Homo sapiens: one gene and its partners. The protein of the gene in region 2 interacts with the protein of the main gene of each other region in a pairwise test. Each region holds a gene or a part of one and is shown on either strand. Other genes may lie near its edges. The genes, in order: GAB1, LYN and A2M.

Region 1 (3,658 bases), on a different chromosome or scaffold from region 2:
ATGATGTCCACAATATTCATTTATACCATGGCTTCTCATAGTTCAGTTTTTAAAATTATATATATATAAATGTGCATGTAACATCAGATGTTATTGACAGTAGTTGTTACCATAGAATGCATGTATCTTTCTCACTGTGTGTATCCACTTAATTTGTTCATATGTCCAATCCCTGTCACGGACCTGATTGCTTACTTGACAGTGGAGGAGAAGACCTACCAGAATGACCCGAAGACAGAAATGGGAAGGATCAGCCCACCTCAGCATTATTAGAGGGCCAAAGGCTCTGTAGTGAAAGTAGTAATACCAACACTTTCAACGGGCCAAAAAAGAGGCACTAGGAGTGTTTGTGAACACCCAAGAATTATGATCAGTATCTACAGCATAGTGTGTAGGCATAAAGTAGTTAATATTTTAACAAAATATAAAAATACTGTTTTCTCTAAAGGGGGAAGCAGACAACTTCCCATAAGTAGAAAAAGAAAAACACTGGTGTTCAATTTCAGGTTTAAATGCATTTATGAAGGAAGACTATAATCCCCATTAATTAAATATAAAAGAGTCCAGCAGAAATTATGACCTTAATGTACAAGTAAAGTAGTATTTCTATATCAAATTAAATTTAGTCTATGATTAAATACAATGCTATATATACACACACATACAGACACACTCATAGTACCTTTATGGAATTCTCTAAAATGCTCACAGTAACTTATATAGTATTGATAATGATAAAGATGTATAAACTGAAGTGTAGATTTAAAAAATCTTTTACATCTTACTAAATGATATCTTCCATGGGTTAAACAGCTTTTTCAAGTTTGAATTTTAATTTTTGAAAGCAGAACTGTGCTTCAGTATTCAAACCTTCATAAAATCTTACAATTTTTCAGAATAAGGAATTAAGGTAAAGAACTCTAATGTGGAAGAAAGATTTCCAATCTCCAAGATCATAACTGTCACATCGTTAACCAGTGGTTTTTAGCCCATTCCTGGCCAAAGTCTAGCTTCTTGGAGGTGAGTTAAAAGGGTTTGATTCAAATTTAGTTTTTATACGTGCATATTTTAAAACCTAATAAAAACGCACATTCTGATGTGTTACATACCCTACTTTACCACACTGGAGACTGCTTATGTATTAACTTCCACTACCAGGATAACTTATTTTTGTATAGACCTTGAATAACTTTAGCTATCTCTAATTAAAGAATTTCCTGAGATGTATGTTTAAAACCTATTATTTTTGCTTACATTTGTGTGAATCAAAATTTTCTTGATAGTATACAAATAAAACAGGGCATAGCTATAAATTGGCTGCTGGTTTCATCAACTATGTATAACTCCACATTTGTGTTATTCAGAAATAACTCAGAATCTTATTATGCTTAGTAATGAGCCAAAATGAATAAGCATAAATGTGAACCCAAAATACATTTATATTGATAAAATTGAGTTTTCAGGCTTTATGTATTGGGGTTATACATAAAATTTCATCTAAAAAGATTCTAGTGCTAAAAATGTTTGGAAAATACTGCTCTGTAAGAAACTTTTAATTTAATTCTCTAATACAATGTTCAATGTGATTTAGTTTTCTAAAGCAAACTGCCTTTCTAATACATCACCATTTTTAAATTATTCAGAATGAAAAATTTTCTGAAAATCAGAGTGCTACAGATCTTCAAATATGGTGACTTGTAAAAAGTTAATGATAAGTTAGACTAAAAACATTCATTAAGTGCTTTAGACCCTTGATAGGCAGCTGTAAAGATTTTTATTTTTGAATTAATCATGTATTTATTATTGTGTTTTAAATCTTAAATATATTCATCCTCCAAGTAACAGAATTTAGCATCTTTACACATTAGCTGTATCGTGTGTTTTGATAGTTTAGGCACATTTCAGGATTTTAGATTTCATTTTGTTGTTTCATTATAAAACAGCTTGCACACCAAACTCAATCAATCTTTTTTATTTAAAAATCCACCTAAAAATTCACTTCTGGGTTTTAGTTTTTGTTTAAAAAGAAGCAAATATTTAAAAGCATCAAATGTTACTAGTCTACAATTCATCTTGTTATGAACATTTTTAGTTTGAGGATTGGGAAAATAAACCTATTACATTGATTAGGCACAGTACTATGGCCAATGGGCCAGAAATCAGGGCACATCTGTGTACTCAGGCAACAGTTAGAGGTCTGAATGGAGGGGGTCATGCCTCAACTGTGGGCACTCCTTTCTCTATGCCCCCTCCAAAAATTGTTATAAGTCTCAAATCAGTACATGAGATTGTATGTAACTTGGTTAAAAAACAACTATACGTGCTTTCTAAATTATGTTGCAAAGCCAAGACAGACGAATATAATTGTAGCCTCACTACAACTTGTGGTCTTAATATCTATGTCACAGGACCATGTTATAGGTGAGACAGAATTATACCATCCCTCTGGTGTTTTCAGAAATCTGGTTGGAAGGAGTCCATGACTATAACATTTCACATTGTAGCAAGGCTCCAATATTTCTTGAATTGGGGCAGTGAATATAAATCACAGTACAAAATCCGTAATTCTTTCAGTGGAAAAGCAACAGGTGCTACATACGAGAATCACTTATATAACATCTATTTTTTTTAAAAAAATGCAGATATAAAATATTAATTGCATAGGGAATTAAATATAAGGCCAAGAAGAATATTAAGTAAAAAAAATCATAGAAAGGGCACTATGGTGTCAAAAGACAGAATTTCATAGAGTAATAAATCTGAATTACTATCTAATTAAAAATCACAGTATGTTGCTGTAACTAACAGTGAATGTCAACTGCTTTATTAATTCCAAACTGAAAACCAATATTAGGACTAACAAGAACACAACCAAAGCTCATTGTCTAAACCTGATCAGTGTATTAGCACATCACTGCCTGGTACGTACCTGATTGGTTACATAATCTACCTTTTGCAAATAACACTTAATACATGTTAACAAGTGTAAGAGCACATCATCACTGCATGCCATCAATGATTTGCAGGCTTACTTGGTAGTGTAATTATTCAGTCTTTCAAAGGTGCAAGATCCCACCCGGCAGAATCTTCACTCAATGAACCAAAAACACTGTAATTAACAAAATATAACAAAGTTCCACCATTAAAAACTAAATGTACATTAACCAGAGAACTAGGTCCTGACACCAGTACATACATTATCCTCAGCATTTTGGAAGGCAACAAATGATGAGTCCAAGTATAAGCTAATGGTTATCACCTGAAGCTTCAGGTAGAAAGCTAACTTGTGAATCTACCTCTCATTTTAATGTTGTTAGACTGTAAACAGCAATTTCCAAATCTAAAAGTAGCTTAGTTGACTTAGTATTGTTATATAAAGTAGTGTGACAAAAAACAAGAACTCCCAAAGGAATTATGGTAAGGTACATTGGGAAAACCCAGAACAATGTTTTAGATGAAAAAGTGCATAAATACAGTAATACTACGAGTGTGTTAACTGTGGAACAAATGTTTCTCTGGGAGCTAAACAATACTATTTTCCCACATTATTTACATGTTATGAATTGTTCAGATACCACAAAGCACCACTTAAGTCTAAATTGCTTGATTATGTCAGAAAGGTCCTTTGACTTCAACTCTACTCATTTGAGGATCTACC
Region 2 (3,658 bases):
CTACCATTTAGCCATGTGCTTCACTTGTGGCTAGTTTGGAATCCACTGTAACCTAGAACACTCACAACAAACTGCTGAGGTTTAAACATGAGGACTCTGAGGCTAGCAAGGCCAGCACCTTGCCAGCAGCAGCCCACAGTTAGGAAGGGACAGACCTGGGATTTCAGCCCCCACATGAAATTAATTCGACACCCTGTGCTCTACCGCCCTGCCCTGCCTTACTTTTGACCATTCAGAGTGATTTCTGGGCACTCATTTGGGTGCCAGGGATCTCCTGAGCAAGTCGCCCACCCACAACCCTAGCAAAGTCTTTGATCGGCATTCTGGTTTGTGAACAATCCAGAGAGAACAGAGCACAATAAACTCCTCTAGGATAGAAACCTCCCACTTATTTATGTTGGTATTCCCCCAAACCACCCACTATCATGACATACAGCACTCGATAAATATACTTGGGCTGGGTGTGGTGGCTCACGCCTGTAATCCCAGCACAGCACTTTGGGAGGCTGAGGCAGGTGGATCCCTTGAGCTTAGGAGTTTGACACCAGGCTGGCCAACATGGCCAAACCCCATCTCTACAAAAAATAAGCCAGGCATAGTGGCACACACCTGTAGTCCCAGCTACTTGGAGGCTGAAGTGGGAAGATGGCTTGAGCCCAGGAGGTCAAGGGTGCAGTGAGCTATGACTGCACCACTGTACTCCTGCCTGGGGTTACAGCCTGGTCTCAAACTCCTGAGCTCAAATTATCCTCCTGCCTTGGCCTCCCAAAAAACAAAAAAATTACGCAGGCCTGGTGGCGGGGCCTGTAATCCTAGCTACCCAGTACTGAGGTGAGAGGATGGCTTGGGCCTGGGAGGTGGAGGTTGCAGTGAGCCGAGATAGCACCACTGCACTTCAGCCTGGGCGACAGAGTGAGACCCCATCTCAAAACATACAAATAAATAAAGAAAGAAATACACGTGAGGGAAAATTTTTGTTACATACATTGGGCATCTATCAAATTTGAAATAATACAAAAAGCCAGTGTGGTTCTGAAAGACAAAAATCAACTGCTATGGTGCCGCATTTCATTATACCAACAACCATAAACTCCATATTAAAATTTTGCTTAAAACCAGGGATTCGGCCAGGCGTGGTGGCCAAATCCCTGGTGAGTGAGATCGTACCACTGCACTCCAGCCTGGATGACAGAGTGAGACTCTGTCTCAAAAACAAAACAAAACAAAAAACCAAGGATTGTGCCCATTACTGTATCTGTCACTCTCCAGGTCACTTAGGGGAGGTGTCAAGTACCTACTTGCAGATGACGATTACAAGCTGAAGCCTATTGCTGTCACAGAAAACAGAAATAAATGTTACTTTCTAGCTTCAAATTAATCTCTAGAGAAGTAGCCTTGAGTCATTCAACTCTCCACCTACTCAAAGCATTAAGTCAGTGTTCAACGTGTCTTCGCTCTTGGCTATGTCATAAATGCCATATTGTAAAAGAGTGTAGGCAAGAAGTTGCCTGTGATGGACAAAAAGATTAGCTTCATACTAAAAGGCTCCAGTGATTCCCCTTCGTTAATGCCATGAAGTCCAACATTTAGTATTAGGGCCAAGCACCCTCCAAGCCTGCCTGTGGAGCCTCCCACTGCCTCTCTGGAACAAGCTCTGGTAATGTGGAATGACCCCTGCATAGTCAGGCTGTCCTTCCTCAGGAAAGCCCCTTCTTCCAGGGTGTGTGGCCCACTCCCTTCAGGATTTCCACCAACATGGCAGGTGTGTACCCCAACTCCTAACACTGTGCGGGACTCCCAGTAGCTACCCAGGAAAAGTTTGCTAAACTGAATACTAAACATAGCAGTGGAAGGTTCTTTAAGAAAATGTTCTATTTACAACATTTACAGCGCATCAGCTCTCCTGAGACAGGACTCTTACAATTATATCCATCAAGCGTCCTTCAAGTCACTCTAGCTCCAAAGTTCCCTGTCTGCTTCCACCTGCCTTCTGCAGTCCCACTGGCTTCATTCCATTGCTCCTTATATCCTGCCGTTTTAAAATCATATAAGGAGCCAGGCGCAATGACTTATGCCTGTAATCCCCGGATTTCGGGAGGCTGAGGCAGCCGGATAACTTGAGGCCAGAAGTTCGAGACCAGCCTGGCCAACACAGCAAAGCCCTGTCTGTACTAAAAATACAAAAAGTAGCTGGGCATGGTGGTGTGTGCCTGTAATTCCAGCTACTCAGGAGGCTGAAGCACAGGAATCACTTGAACCCGGGAGGTGGAGGTTGCAGTGAGCCGAGATCACACCATCACAGTCCAGCCTGGGTGACAGAGCAAGACTCTGTCTCAGGAAAAAAAAAATATATATATATGTGTGTGTGTGTGTGTGTGTGTGTGTGTATATATATATATATATATTTATATTTTTATATGGGATTTATGTATATATTTATATGTGGGATTTATATATATATTTATGTATATATGGGATGCTCATTCTTTTAAATATAAAGACGTACAGAAGTAAAAACAGCACTCAACTGTCACCCAGAAATAATCACTATTAAGATCTTAGTATAAAAATTGTTTGAAATGCAGTTTATAGATGATGTGTCCATATATGAATATTTTATTTCAGAAATGGTATCATGTCATCTACTAGTTTGTGTTCAGCTCTTTTGCTATTGTTTGTTTGTTTGAGACAAATTGCACAGGCTGATTTCGAGCTCCTGAGCTCAAGCAATCCTCCTGCCTCATGCTCCCAGAGTGCTGGGATTACAGGCAAGGGCCACTGCGCCTGGCCGCCTGGCCGTGTTCAGCTTTTGAAAAAAAATTTTTCATATTAGTAACTGTAATTGAATGTTTTATCTTTTAAGATATTTACAAAGTATCCCATTATATGAATGTGACTTAATTTGTGTTTGTTTAATAAACCTCCCTATTGGACTGCCCATCTCTGTACGTTGGAAGGGGGGATGAAAATATGTTGATTAATGGATACAAATATACTGTTTGATAGAAGAAATAAGACCTGGTAGGGTGACTAGAGTTCACCATTAACTATTGTGCATTTCAAAACAGCTAGAAGAATTCAAAAGATTCAGCATTTAAAAAGAAAACAAATATTTAAGGTGATGGCTATCGCAAATACTGATTTAATCTTTACAAATTATATGATGTATTAAATTATCACATGTGCCCTGAAACTATGTATATCTATTATGCATCAGAACAAACAAACTCTGATGGAGCTGGCCAATCCTACCTCAGAAAAGCTGCTCCAGGCCACATTCCCCTGCAAGTTAAGGGGAGGGGCTGTTCCACCAGATTGTATTTTCCTTTTTCTATTTTGTTTTGCCTACAGATATGTGTATTTGAGCACAAGGTAAAATGTTTCTTGCTATGGGTTGTGGTCAAATAAGTTTGACAGGCTGGGCGCGTGGCTCATGCCTGTAATCCCAGCACTTTGGGAGGCCGAGGCAGGCAGATCACCTGAGGTCAGGTGTTCGAGACCAGGCTGGCCAACATGATGAAACCCTGTCTCTACTAAAAATACAAAAATTAGCCGGGCATGGTGGTGCATTGGTGCATGCCTGTAATCCCAGCTACTCGGGAGGCTGAGGCAGCAGAATCGCTTGAACCTGGGAGGAGGGGTTGCAGTGAGTGGAGAT
Region 3 (3,658 bases), on a different chromosome or scaffold from region 2:
CGCATTTGCAGAGTGTTCCTCATGTACAATGTATAACCACTCTGCTTGACTTCGTGGAGGGTTGGCATTGTGTCAATCCTGAAGCTTTTTGTTCCCTACACTTCTCTTTCATTCTCAAGAATCACTTGAGCCAGTAGAATTATTTCTAATTATTCTTATAAATTACTAGTCATGAAATGCCATTTTTATCTTTGATACACGGCAAGGTGCTCATTAATTGTGGTGGGACATGCATGGGTCTAGGTGCTCTTGCATTTTTCTTTTGGCTCCTTAGTAGTCTTAAAAACTTGCTTACATATTTCCCAACGTTTCATCATAGAAGAAGGGAATAACATACTCTGAACTGTGTAATTGGTAAGAGGCACTGCTAGGAGAAGTTTGAGAGTTTTGTATAAGGAATCAAGTGATTCTGCTTCTTAGTGTGACTCTGCCACTACCTTGCTGAATGTCTCTGGGGAATTTGTTTAACCCTTTTGGCCCTAATGTTCACATGTGTAAAACAAATGATAACAATAGTAACTTCTAGTTTTACATGTTGAAGATTTTATGATCTAAAACACACACCTTGTTGGCCAGACAATTTTCAACATCATATTTTGCAGAATCCCCAATCACGTCCCCGGTAGGTAAAACAGCATAGATGAGCAACCGAGCGACAGGAGCAATGTCTGACTTCACAGGGATTGAGATGGAAAAATGGCCCTTCACTGGGGCACAAAGAGAATGAGAGGAAGCCATCATAGGTTAATGACTATTTCCATTAGTAGATGTAACAGACATAATAAACAGTAGATGTAACAAATGGATGATTACCTCTAAGGACTCTAGCTTTAGAAAAAAACCCTATCAAAGCCCTCTCTCCTCTCATAAATCATATACTCTGTTGATTTTTCACCAGCTTTAAGCTTCAGCTCACCCACCTAATGTTCTGATGCTAGTTAAGGGTATGAAGACATCCAATTCACTACCATTTGATCTAGGCCTCATACTAGAAGAGGGAAATAGAACCTGAAGTTATGAGATGTAAGAGTAAGAGTTCAACACATTGTATTCATGCTACATGCTCTTTAACCTTCTATGAGCCAATATTTGGTTCTTTCTCCATAAGAGGAACACCATGCTCCTTCAGAAGTTATTTTTTGATGCCTATGTAGATTCTTTAGAGGTTGCATTAAGTTTCCTTCAGTCTGCTATGGTGCTTCTGTGTTGCTACAAGAACTAATGAGAGAGTAGATTACTGATACTTTTCTAGCAAGTTATCTTTTAGAGTCTACTAGACTAGGAGCAACCTTCAAAGGTTTATATTATGACATATTTGCTCATGGCAAGAGTCCGCTTCAGTCGGTAGAAGTACCCAATTTAATGCTTCATAAATCATAACTATCTTGAAAGGGAAAAAAGATATTTATAATAATATAAATGACATAAATGACTCAGCACAAGACCTGGTATATACAACATACCTTGAAATCGTACATTTTCTCCACCCCATTCTCTAACACAATTCTCATTTTGAGAAGAGGTTCAAGAATATTTATGGTTTAAAAATCTGGAATAAGCATAGATTATACACAACAATATTTTATGTATTTTATTTTTCCCCCTTTGTTCTTATTTATTTATTTATTTATTTATTTACTTTTATAGAGATGGGGTCTCACTATGTTGACCAGGCTGGTCTCAAACTCCTGACCTCAAGAGATCCTCCCATCCCGTTCTCCCAAAGTACTGGGATTACAGGCGTAAGCCATCATAGCTGGCCCACACCAATATTTTAAATAACGCAAAGAAAATAGGCTGAAAAAAAAGACAACACATATTTGATAAAGGGTGAGAAAAAAACCATTATTGTTTTCCCTCCCTCAACTTTCTTTTAATTAATATTAGATGGAAATGGTCTCTCGTTACTTGAAAGTATTCCTGATATTCCCAGCTCAGGAATGGAAAACCAAACATCATATCTTCTCACTCAGAAGTAGGAGCTAAGCTATTAGGAAGTGGCAGCTAAGCTATTAGGAAGTGGGAGCTAAGTTATGAGGATGCAAAGGCATAAGAATGATACAATGGACTTTGTGGATTCAGGGGGAAGGGTGGAAGGGGGTGAGGGATAAAAGACTGCAAATTGGGTACAATGTATACTGCTCGGGTGATGGGTGCACCAAAATCTCGGAAATCACTACCAAAGAATTTATTCATTCATGTGACCAAACACCACCTGTTCCCCCAAAAACCTATGGAAAAAAAGGGAAAGTATTCTGATACTTCCGTGGTGTAAGGCTGAATGGGTCAGAATGGGGCAGCAATGCAGAGATGATGGAAATACTCACTGTCTTCCTGCTTCACAAGCAGTCCATGAGTCCCAGTTCGGACAATGCCTCCCTTTGCCATTATCTGCAAAAAAGGAAATAAAAAGAAATTAAATGTGCCAGAGAGAACACGCTTCAGTCTCACTTCAATATACTTGTTTTATTGAGTCCCTGCCGGCAATAATTCACCTCAAGAGAAATCAAACTTTCAAAAGGAACATGGATAAGAAGTTGAAGTAATGACATCTAAAGAGCTTCATGATTACTTGCTCCACAGAGAGCTTTTGTCTACAGTGAAGTCAACGCAGTAACCTCCCTTCTCACCAGATAATAGAAGGAGAGCTTCTTCAGCCCCAGCAGGGTGCCTCCATTCAGAATATAATGTGCCTGGACTGTCTGAGTATGGCCACAGGGTAGTTCATGAGACATGGGCTCAAGGTGGACAAAGCTCTTGCTTGGGGAGAACACAAGATAAGCAGTGTGATGTGCCTCTTCGTGTTCTTCTGACACCCACTGGTAGCCGTAACAGGGACTACGATCCTTGTAATTGACCTAATGAATTAGAAAAATTATATTATTTTTAGATTATACGTCATAAAGATTAATGTTCTCACAAAACTACGTAAGTTTACTGTCCTACCTTAACTAGTAGCTAGAAATCTTTTGTTCCACAATGAAAAGTGGGAGAAGGACCCCTGATTTTGTTTCTCTGCTTCAAATGTAGGCATGCTTTGTGACTTTACACTGCAGAGCCTCCTGGGATTGAGATTTATATTTCTTAAGAGCATAAAAGGAGGCATCCTTTGCTCTGATTAGCTTGCTTGAAATTTCTTTGACTGCTTTACCTGTGCAATTAGAGACACTGGAGCTATGAAACTTCATTGAGGAGAGTAAATAATCTCTAGAAATGGAAGAACTGTGCTTTCAGAAAGCAGCTGCCTCTTTTAGGGTGGATTTTGAATGGGTATTATGAATAAATAAAATATTGTAACCTTAGGGGTCTGAGAAGACATTGGTAGAAAGCATTGGTTTAAGAGCTGAGCTGATGAATTAGCTGAAGTCTACCTCTTCTGGGCTATCTTAGGCTGATTGCTATTATTATTATTTTTTTGAGACAGGGTTTTGCTCTGGCGCCCATGCTGGAGTACAGTGGCACAATCTTGGCTCAGTGCAATCTCTGCCTCTGGGGCTCAAGTGATCCTCCCAGTCAGCCTCCTGAGTTGCTAGGACTACAGGTGCATGCCACCCCACCCAGCTAATTTTTTGTATATTTTGTAGAGACAGGGTTTCACCACGTTGCCTAGGCTCGTCTCGATCTCCTGGCCTCACGCAATCCACCCACCTCAGCCTCC

What was found.
Region 1: the proteins of LYN (region 2) and GAB1 interact in binary tests that used the Homo sapiens proteins (3 or more experiments, as listed by UniProt).
Region 3: the proteins of LYN (region 2) and A2M interact in binary tests that used the Homo sapiens proteins (3 or more experiments, as listed by UniProt).

Annotation. Positions count from the first base shown.
Region 1 is NC_000004.12:143,469,277-143,472,934, reverse strand, and holds part of GAB1 (GRB2-associated-binding protein 1), read right to left. Parts: 3' UTR 1-3,658. UniProt on the Homo sapiens protein: Adapter protein that plays a role in intracellular signaling cascades triggered by activated receptor-type kinases. Plays a role in FGFR1 signaling. Probably involved in signaling by the epidermal growth factor receptor (EGFR) and the insulin receptor (INSR).
Region 2 is NC_000008.11:55,886,305-55,889,962, reverse strand, and holds part of LYN (tyrosine-protein kinase Lyn), read right to left. Parts: intron 1-3,658. UniProt on the Homo sapiens protein: Non-receptor tyrosine-protein kinase that transmits signals from cell surface receptors and plays an important role in the regulation of innate and adaptive immune responses, hematopoiesis, responses to growth factors and cytokines, integrin signaling, but also responses to DNA damage and genotoxic agents.
Region 3 is NC_000012.12:9,098,817-9,102,474, forward strand, and holds part of A2M (alpha-2-macroglobulin isoform a precursor), read right to left. Parts: intron 2,859-3,658; coding exon 2,631-2,858; intron 2,392-2,630; coding exon 2,328-2,391; intron 708-2,327; coding exon 565-707; intron 1-564. UniProt on the Homo sapiens protein: Is able to inhibit all four classes of proteinases by a unique 'trapping' mechanism. This protein has a peptide stretch, called the 'bait region' which contains specific cleavage sites for different proteinases.